Homo sapiens: one gene and its partner. The protein of the gene in region 1 interacts with the protein of each later gene in a biochemical or structural test. Each region holds a gene or a part of one and is shown on either strand. Other genes may lie near its edges.

Region 1 (3,838 bases):
TGAGCCACTGCGCCCAGCCTTTTTTTGTATTTTAGTAGAGACAGGGTTTCACCATGTGGTCCAGGCTGGTCTCAAACTCCTGACCTCAAGTGATCCCCCTGCCTCAGCCTCCCAAAGTGCTGGGATTGCAGGTGTGAGCCACCGTGCCCAGTCTTTTTTTTTTTTTTTTTTTAAAGATGCAGTCTTGGCTGGGTGCGCTGGCTCATGCTTGTAATCTCAGCATTTTGGGAGGCCGAGGCGGGCGGATCACCTCAGGTCAGAAGTTCGAGACCAGCCTGAACAACATGGTGAAACTTCGTCTCTACTAAAAAAAAATACAAAATTAGCCGAGCATGGTGGCGCATGCCTGTAATCCCAGCTACCCAGCTACTTGGGAGGCTGAGGCAGGAGAATCGCTTAAACCCGGGAGGCAGAGGTTGTGGTGAGCCAAGATCTCGACATTGCACTCCAGCCTGGGCAACAAGAGTGAAAATCCGTCTCAAAAAAAAAACATAAAAAAAAGATGGAGTCTTGCTTTGTCACCCAGGCTGGCATACAGTGGCACAGTCAGGGCTCACTGCAGCCTTGACCTCCCAGGATCAAGTGATCCTCCCACCTTAGCCTCCAGAGTAGCTGGGACCACAGGTGTACATTTTTTAAAAGTGTTTTGTAGAGATAGGGTCTCACTATGTTACCCAGGCTGGTCTCAAATGCCTGGATTCAAGTAATCCTCCCATCTCTGCCTCCCAAAAGTGCTAGGATTACAGGCGTGAGCCACCCCGCCTGGCCTGAACTACTATCTTTTATTGTCTTCTTCACTATCCCCCACTAAAGCAGGTTCCTGGTGGGCAGGAACTCCTCCCTTAACCTCTCTGGGCTTGTTTCCTCACCTTTAAAATGGGTGTTATCAGAGTCCCTGCATCTCAGAGTGTTGCTATGGTGACTGAATGAGTTCATTAATGTAAGGCACTTCAACAGTGCCCAAGGTGCTCAATAAATAGATCTAACTACAGTAGTGTTCCCCACTGGTCCCCTGTGCCTTGATGCCGGGCAAAGGAATAGTGCAGACAGGCAGGAGGAGGCAGAGAGGGAGAGAGAGGGAGTGGGAGTGGGGGAACGTCAGGGATGGAGACCCCAGGCAGGCGCCCAATGACACAGAGATCCGCAGTCCTCTCTCCATCTTTAATGGGGCCCCAGGTGGGCTTGGGGCACGGGTGTCCTTAAATACAGCCCCCATGGGCAAGGCAGCGGGGGCGGGGCGGGGTGGGGCCGGGCCTGCCGGGGCGGGGCGGGGCGGGGCGGGACCTCAGCTGCACTTGCAGGAGCGCACGATCATGTTGGACAGCTGCTCCACCTTGGGCTTGCGGCCCACGTAGTACACGATGGGCAGCGGCTCCAGCGCCTGCGGCACGCAGCACGGCGCCGCCGAGGCGCCCGGGTTATGCTGGTTGTACAGGGCCAGGACCTGCGGGCGGCGGGCGGGGTCAGGGCTCAGGGCTCGTGGAGGGAGGAAAACGGCCCTCCACTGCCCCATCCCCCACCCGCTACCGCGCCAGCCTCTCTCACTTCGTCTCTCCCCGCATCCCCTCTTCCCATCTCCAATTCGGTCTCTCTTATCTTCTAACATCCTATCTTATTCTGTCTCTCCCCACCTGTCTGATTTTCTTTTTGTTTTGAGACTGGGTCTCGCTCTGCCACCCAGGCTGGAGTATAGTGGCACGATCATGGCTCGCTGCAGCCTCAACCTCCTGAGCGCAAGCCATCCTCCCGCCTCAGCCTCCGGAGTAGCTCCAACCACAGGCAAGCGCCACCACTCCTAGCTTTTTTTTTTTTTTTTTTTTTTTTTTTGGTAGAGATGGGATCTCAGTCTGCTGCCTGGGCTACTCTCGAACTCCTGGGCTCAAGCGATCCTCCTGCTTCAGCGTCCCAAAGTGTTGGTATTACCATCGTGAGCCGCCGCGCCCGCCTGATTTTCTTTCTCAGTCTCTGTCCCTCCTCATCTTCGCCTCTTGCCTTGTTGTGTATCTGTCTTTGTCTCTCCTTGGCCTAACTCTGTGTCTGTATCTGTCTCTCTCATTTTGTCTCTCCATTTCTGCGTTTTTCCTTCCATCTCCCTGTCTCTCTTCTCCCCTTCACCCCCATCCCTCTGTTACTTCACTCTGTGGGTCTTCATAGCTCATCTCCCTCTGGCCCCTGCTCAGAGCCCCTCTCTAGCTTCCTGCCTCTCTCCCCATCTCTTTATTCATTCCCCTCCCCACCCCATCCCTCTCTTTCTCCCCATCCTGCCAACTCACCTCTCTGACTTTACTTCTCTTTCTCTCTCCTCTTCCTCCGTCCTGGCTCCCCCCAAGCGCATCTCGTAGCCCGGTGGGCCAGACGTACCTTGCTGTACTGCGTGTCCAGGCTCCAAATGTAGGGGCAGGGCCCGAGGCAGAAGTTGGCATGGTAGCCCTTGGGCTCGTGGATCCACTTCCAGCCGAGGTCCTTGCGGAAGTCAATGTACAGCTGCCGCACGCAGCAGTTCTTCTCCGTGGAGCTGCAGGCAGGAGAGACGCGTCAGGGGCAGGGAGGGGCTACCACCATAGAAGCCACATGCCCCTCCTCCCCAGGTGCGTGTGTCACCCTAGGTTGCCCCCCCAGCCCTATCTCCATCTGGGTCTCCCTTGCACCCACTGTGTTAATAACAACACAAATAGTCATGATAATCACTAACACAGATTAAGCACTTCCTCCAGTGCTAAGAGCAATGTAATAATTAATTTCACGCAATGCTTAAGACAAGCCTGTAAGAAGCCAGATGACCATCCACGGGGGGGCTAAATAAATCATGGCATGCCACACCCTGGAACATACAAAATAACACAGCTCCATGTAAACTGATCTGCTCTATTTGTGCAACAAATGTTTATTGAACTACTACTGTGTGCTGGGCTGGGATCTACTGTGGACTGAGGACAAATGAAACAGATAGAAATAGGCTAGGCATGGTGGCTCACACCTTTAATCCCAGCACTTTGGGAGGATGAAGTGGGAGGATCGCTGGAGTCGAGGAGTTCGAGGTTGCAGTGAACTATGATAACACCACTGCATGCCAGCCTGGACAACAAAGTGCAAGACCCTGTCTCTACAAAATTTTTTTTCAATTTTTTTAAAAAAGAGACAGAAATCTCTGCCCTCCATGGGCATGCTATAAATTGTCTTGTCACTCCTCTGCTCTGAACCTGGCTCCATCTCACGGCAAATGCCCAAGTCCTCACCGTGAGCCACAAGGTGCTATCAAATCTGGCTGATCTCAACTCCCTCTCTCACGCCTACTCCACTCCAGCCACACTGGCGTCCTGTCTGTTCCTCAGACAGTCTTATTTCGGGGCTCCTGCATCTGCTGTTCCCTCTGCCTGCCTTGCTAGTCCCACAGATACCCACTCCAGCTTGTTCCTTCACTTCATTTCTTCTTTTTTTTTCTATTTTTTTTTTTTTTTTTTTTTGAGACAGAGTCTCACTCTGTCTGCCAGGCTGGAGTGCAGTGGCATGATCTCGGCTCACTGCAACCTCCGCCTCCCAGGTTCAAGCGATTCTCCTGCCTCAGCCTTCCGAGTAGCTGGGATTACAGGCGTGTGCCACCATGCCCGGCTAATTTTTTTGTCTTTTTAGTAGAGACAGGGTTTCACCATGTTGGCCAGGCTGGTCTCGAACTCCTGACCTTGTGATCCGCCCACCTCAGCCTCCCAAAGTGCTGGTATTACAGACCTGAGCCACTGCATCTGGCCTATTTATTCTTTTTAATTTGTTATTCTTTTTAGAGACACGGTCTCACTATGTTGCTGAGGCTGGTGTCGAACTTGGGCTCAAACGATCCGCA
Region 2 (3,600 bases), on another chromosome or scaffold:
TTACCCTATATGGTCTAAAAGGGAGAGAAACCCTCGGTTCCAGGAACTCCCCACCCTTTTTCTGGAAAACTCTTAAATAATCCACCCCTTGTTTAGCATATAATCAAGAAATAACCATATGTATACTCAGTCCAGCAGCCCATTCCCTGCTCTGTCTATGGAATAATCACCCTTTTATTCCTTTACCTTCTTAATAAATTTGTTTTCACTTTACTCTGTTGGCTCGCTCTTGAATTCCTTCCTGTGCAAGCCAAGAACCCATGTGGCCCCCAGGCTGAACCCCAATTTAGGGGTTCATCCTGTGACCCATTGGCTGGAAAAGGTGTAGGAAACCAAGTAGCTTTGTCATTGTCCCAAAGCTCCACTCTCACCCCCACCCAACAGCCACATCATTATGCCAGCCAGCTCCAGATCCTTGAAAAAAGTAGCCCTCTAAAAATGTATGGAGGTTTCCCAACCCATCTATCCAGAGGGGGCTGAGACCTAGCTGTTTGGAAGGGTGAGAGTTGGGAGAGGGTAGTTGTCACCTCCTGAAGGAGTTCCTAGGGTGACCAGAGGGCATGGGCGTCTTCTCCCGGACAGGTTGAGGGGGAGGCTGGAGGGCAGGGTGGCTGAAGCAACAAGGGAGCAGATATCCCCTGGACTGGAAAGGACATCTTGATGGGTCCCTGGCCTGCCTCTCTCCTCAGGCCCTACTTACGCAACACTGCGGCCAGGCTCAGTGCCCCTCCAGCCAGGCGCGCGCACGCTCACAAGACAACATCTGAACCGCGGTTTGGGAGCCCAGCCAGGAAGGAGGGCTCTCTGGCCGCTCTCCGACCCGAGCGGAGCGCAGTCCGCCCCCGCCCCACGCGCCGGGCCCTCCAGCGCCTGCCCCACTCCTCCTCCCTCCTGCCGGGCCAGCTCTCTCCTTCTTTTCTCCGACCCTTTGGAGAAGTTCGAGGAAACTTTCCGAGGCCCAGCCCTTGACCAATTTGTCCATTAAGCCAGGAGAAAAAAGATGCGCTCTCTGCTTCCCTCCTGCCCCAATCACTTCCCAAATGGCCCCCTCGAGCTGTTTGTTTAAAGGTCCCTCTCCGGATCTGTGCCGAAGGTTCCTAGAAATTTGCCAAGCCCCGCTTTGACCAAGCTCCCTCCCATCCTTATGCGCGCATAAGTTTACCCAAATTGTGTGCCAGAGCACCGTTCCCAAAGTCCTACATTAGCAAAAACGACCCCTGTAGCTGTTTGCCAAAGGCTTACCTAGACGCTTGGCAAGAGCCCTTAGCAACTGCCCAGATGTGTCCAAAAGTTGTTTACAAAGACCGCCCCCCCCCCCCGCCAAATGTCCCAGATACTAGAGGATGTCCCCGCTATTTACATAAGAGTCCCTTTCCAGTAGTTTGCCAGGTCACCCCTCTCCCACTCTCTGGCTTGTTTTTCGCCCCACTGCTGTATGCTGAAGGTTGCCAAATTGTTTATCAAAGGTTTTCTTTGCTTACAAAAGATCCCCCACCGTTTGCAAGAGATCACTCCAATAGCTTGCCAAAGACCCCCCAAGCTGTTTACCGAAGCCCCTCCCCCACGCTGTGTGCCCACCGCCGAGGGCAGGGGGAGAGACACCCCCATCCTTTGCCTCCGAAGTTTGTCTAAACGTGGTTCCTTGAGGCCAGCGCAGCAACTCACCACTGCCAACTCTTTGTCCGTTTTGGGGGCGACATCGCCGGGGAACTTGATGATGGGCGACGGCGCGGCGGCGGCGTGGCTCAGCAGGCAGCCCAGGAGACAGAGCGCCCTCAGGGGACCCGTGAGCGCGCCCCGGGCCATTAGCGCCTCCATCGTAGCGCTCCCTGGCCCCGCGCGTCGCCCGGGGGTCGCTGGCTCGGTGCGTGTGGCCGCCTCGCCGCCTGGTTGGAGCCTGCTCCGCGGCGCAGGGCTGCGCTCCGAGGGTCCGCTGGCTCGGTGGCCTGGGGTTTGCCCGGCTCAGCGGCTCATGGTCCGGCCCCCGCGCCCCAGCCCCCGCCGCCGCCGCCGCCGCCGCAGGTCCTGGCAATCCCTTTGTATGTTTAAAGCCCCAGATGCGCAGCCTCCAGCCACCGCCTGAGGAAGTCTGGATGCAGCGGAAACAAGGGAGGGCAGCCGCCAGATGTAGCCGGCTGGGCTGGGAGGGAGCTGGCAGAGCGGGGCTGGGGGCGGGGGGCGCACTCGGGCCCGCCCCTCTCTGCCCCACCCCCCTACTCGCCCTCCTCCACTTTTCTCCTCTTTTTTCCTTTCTCCACCTCTTTTCCCCGGCCGCCTGCTACTCCTGGCCTCTACGTCCACCCTCAGTGCACGACCTCGTCACCCCACTTGCCTCTCTCGCGATCTGGGCGCACAGCCTCAGAACCCCCTGCTGGGAAACATCTGTCGCTCTAGGCCCTTGACGTCCTGAGGTTAGAGAGCAGCGGTACTACTAGGAGGGACGCCGGCTTGGCTAGGACACCCTGCACTCCCTGGGGTCAGGAACGGGAAGGAATGGTCAGAAACAGATGATCAGCCACAATGATAGATGGTCAGAGACAGAAATTTTCGATATTTAGGGATAGGGACAGAGAGATTCTGGGATGAACAGAGATGGAAAGAGAGAGATGGAAACAGAGACAGTGGAAGGTCCCAGGTTGCTTCCTTACCTCTTTCCTTCTGCAAATGTGTAAGCCTTAACTTGGCCTCGTATAGTGCGAGATGCTAGATACACCTTGGGAAATAGAGCAGTCAGGGGCCCCGCGTTAGAGACGTTGGAACCAGAGCGACTCCATCTTGAACAGGGGGCTGGGTAAAATGAGGCTGAGACCTGCTGGGCTGCACTCCCAGGAGGGTCCGCATTCTCGGTCACAGGATGAGATAGAAATTGGGCAAGACTGGTTTAATAAGATAGAGGTCACAAAGACCCCACTGATAAAACAGTATGCAGTGAAGAAGCCAGCCAAAACCAAGATGGCAAAGAAAGCGACCTCTGGTCATCCTCACTGCTCATTTTACGCTAATTATAATGCATTAGCATGTTAAAGGAAGCACCCACCAGTGCCATGGCAGTTTATAAATGCCATGGCAATGTGGGGAGGTTTACCCTATATGGTCTAAAAAGGGGAGGAGCCCTCAGTTCCACGAATTCCCCACTCACTCTTGAATCCTTTCCTGCGCCAAGCCAAGAATCCATGTGGCCTCTCAGGTCGAATCCCAATTTTGAAGTTCTCCCTGTGACAACCGTCTCTGAGGAATGTCTTCTCCCTCTCTCAGGAAAGACAGTTGAGAGATAAGCTGTGATGGGGAACTCCAGCAGGCTGTTGGGAACGCCTGACTTCAGCCCCTAAACTAGTAAAGACAATCAAGGAAGGCTTCCTGGAAGAAGTGACTTCTGAGCTGAGACCTGAAGAGCTAAAGAGGTGGAGTGCTGGGTGGGGAATATGGGGAATGTTTTAGGGAACATTGACAATGGCCCAGAGATGAAAAACAGCAAGAGGCACTGGAGAAGAAAGTTTTTTCTATCTGAAAAAGGTGGGGCACAGGGTGAGGGGATGGAGCTGGAGGGGTCAGTAAGGACCAGCCTAGGAAGGGGGCAGATAGGACTGGGGGTCAGCAGGG

Evidence for each region. Proteins that work in one complex are often made in the same cells at the same time.
Region 2: of the proteins of TGFB1 (region 1) and MMP2, one has a biochemical effect on the other in vitro, tested with the Homo sapiens proteins (one study listed by BioGRID).

The regions. Positions count from the first base shown.
Region 1 is NC_000019.10:41,329,767-41,333,604, forward strand, and holds the end of TGFB1 (transforming growth factor beta-1 proprotein preproprotein), read right to left. Parts: intron 2,516-3,838; coding exon 2,362-2,515; intron 1,445-2,361; coding exon 1,286-1,444; 3' UTR 557-1,285; downstream 1-556. UniProt on the Homo sapiens protein: Transforming growth factor beta-1 proprotein: Precursor of the Latency-associated peptide (LAP) and Transforming growth factor beta-1 (TGF-beta-1) chains, which constitute the regulatory and active subunit of TGF-beta-1, respectively.
Region 2 is NC_000016.10:55,477,698-55,481,297, reverse strand, and holds the start of MMP2 (72 kDa type IV collagenase isoform 1 preproprotein), read right to left. Parts: upstream 2,101-3,600; 5' UTR 1,819-2,100; coding exon 1,666-1,818; intron 1,301-1,665; exon of another isoform or gene 1,243-1,300; intron 766-1,242; exon of another isoform or gene 701-765; intron 1-700.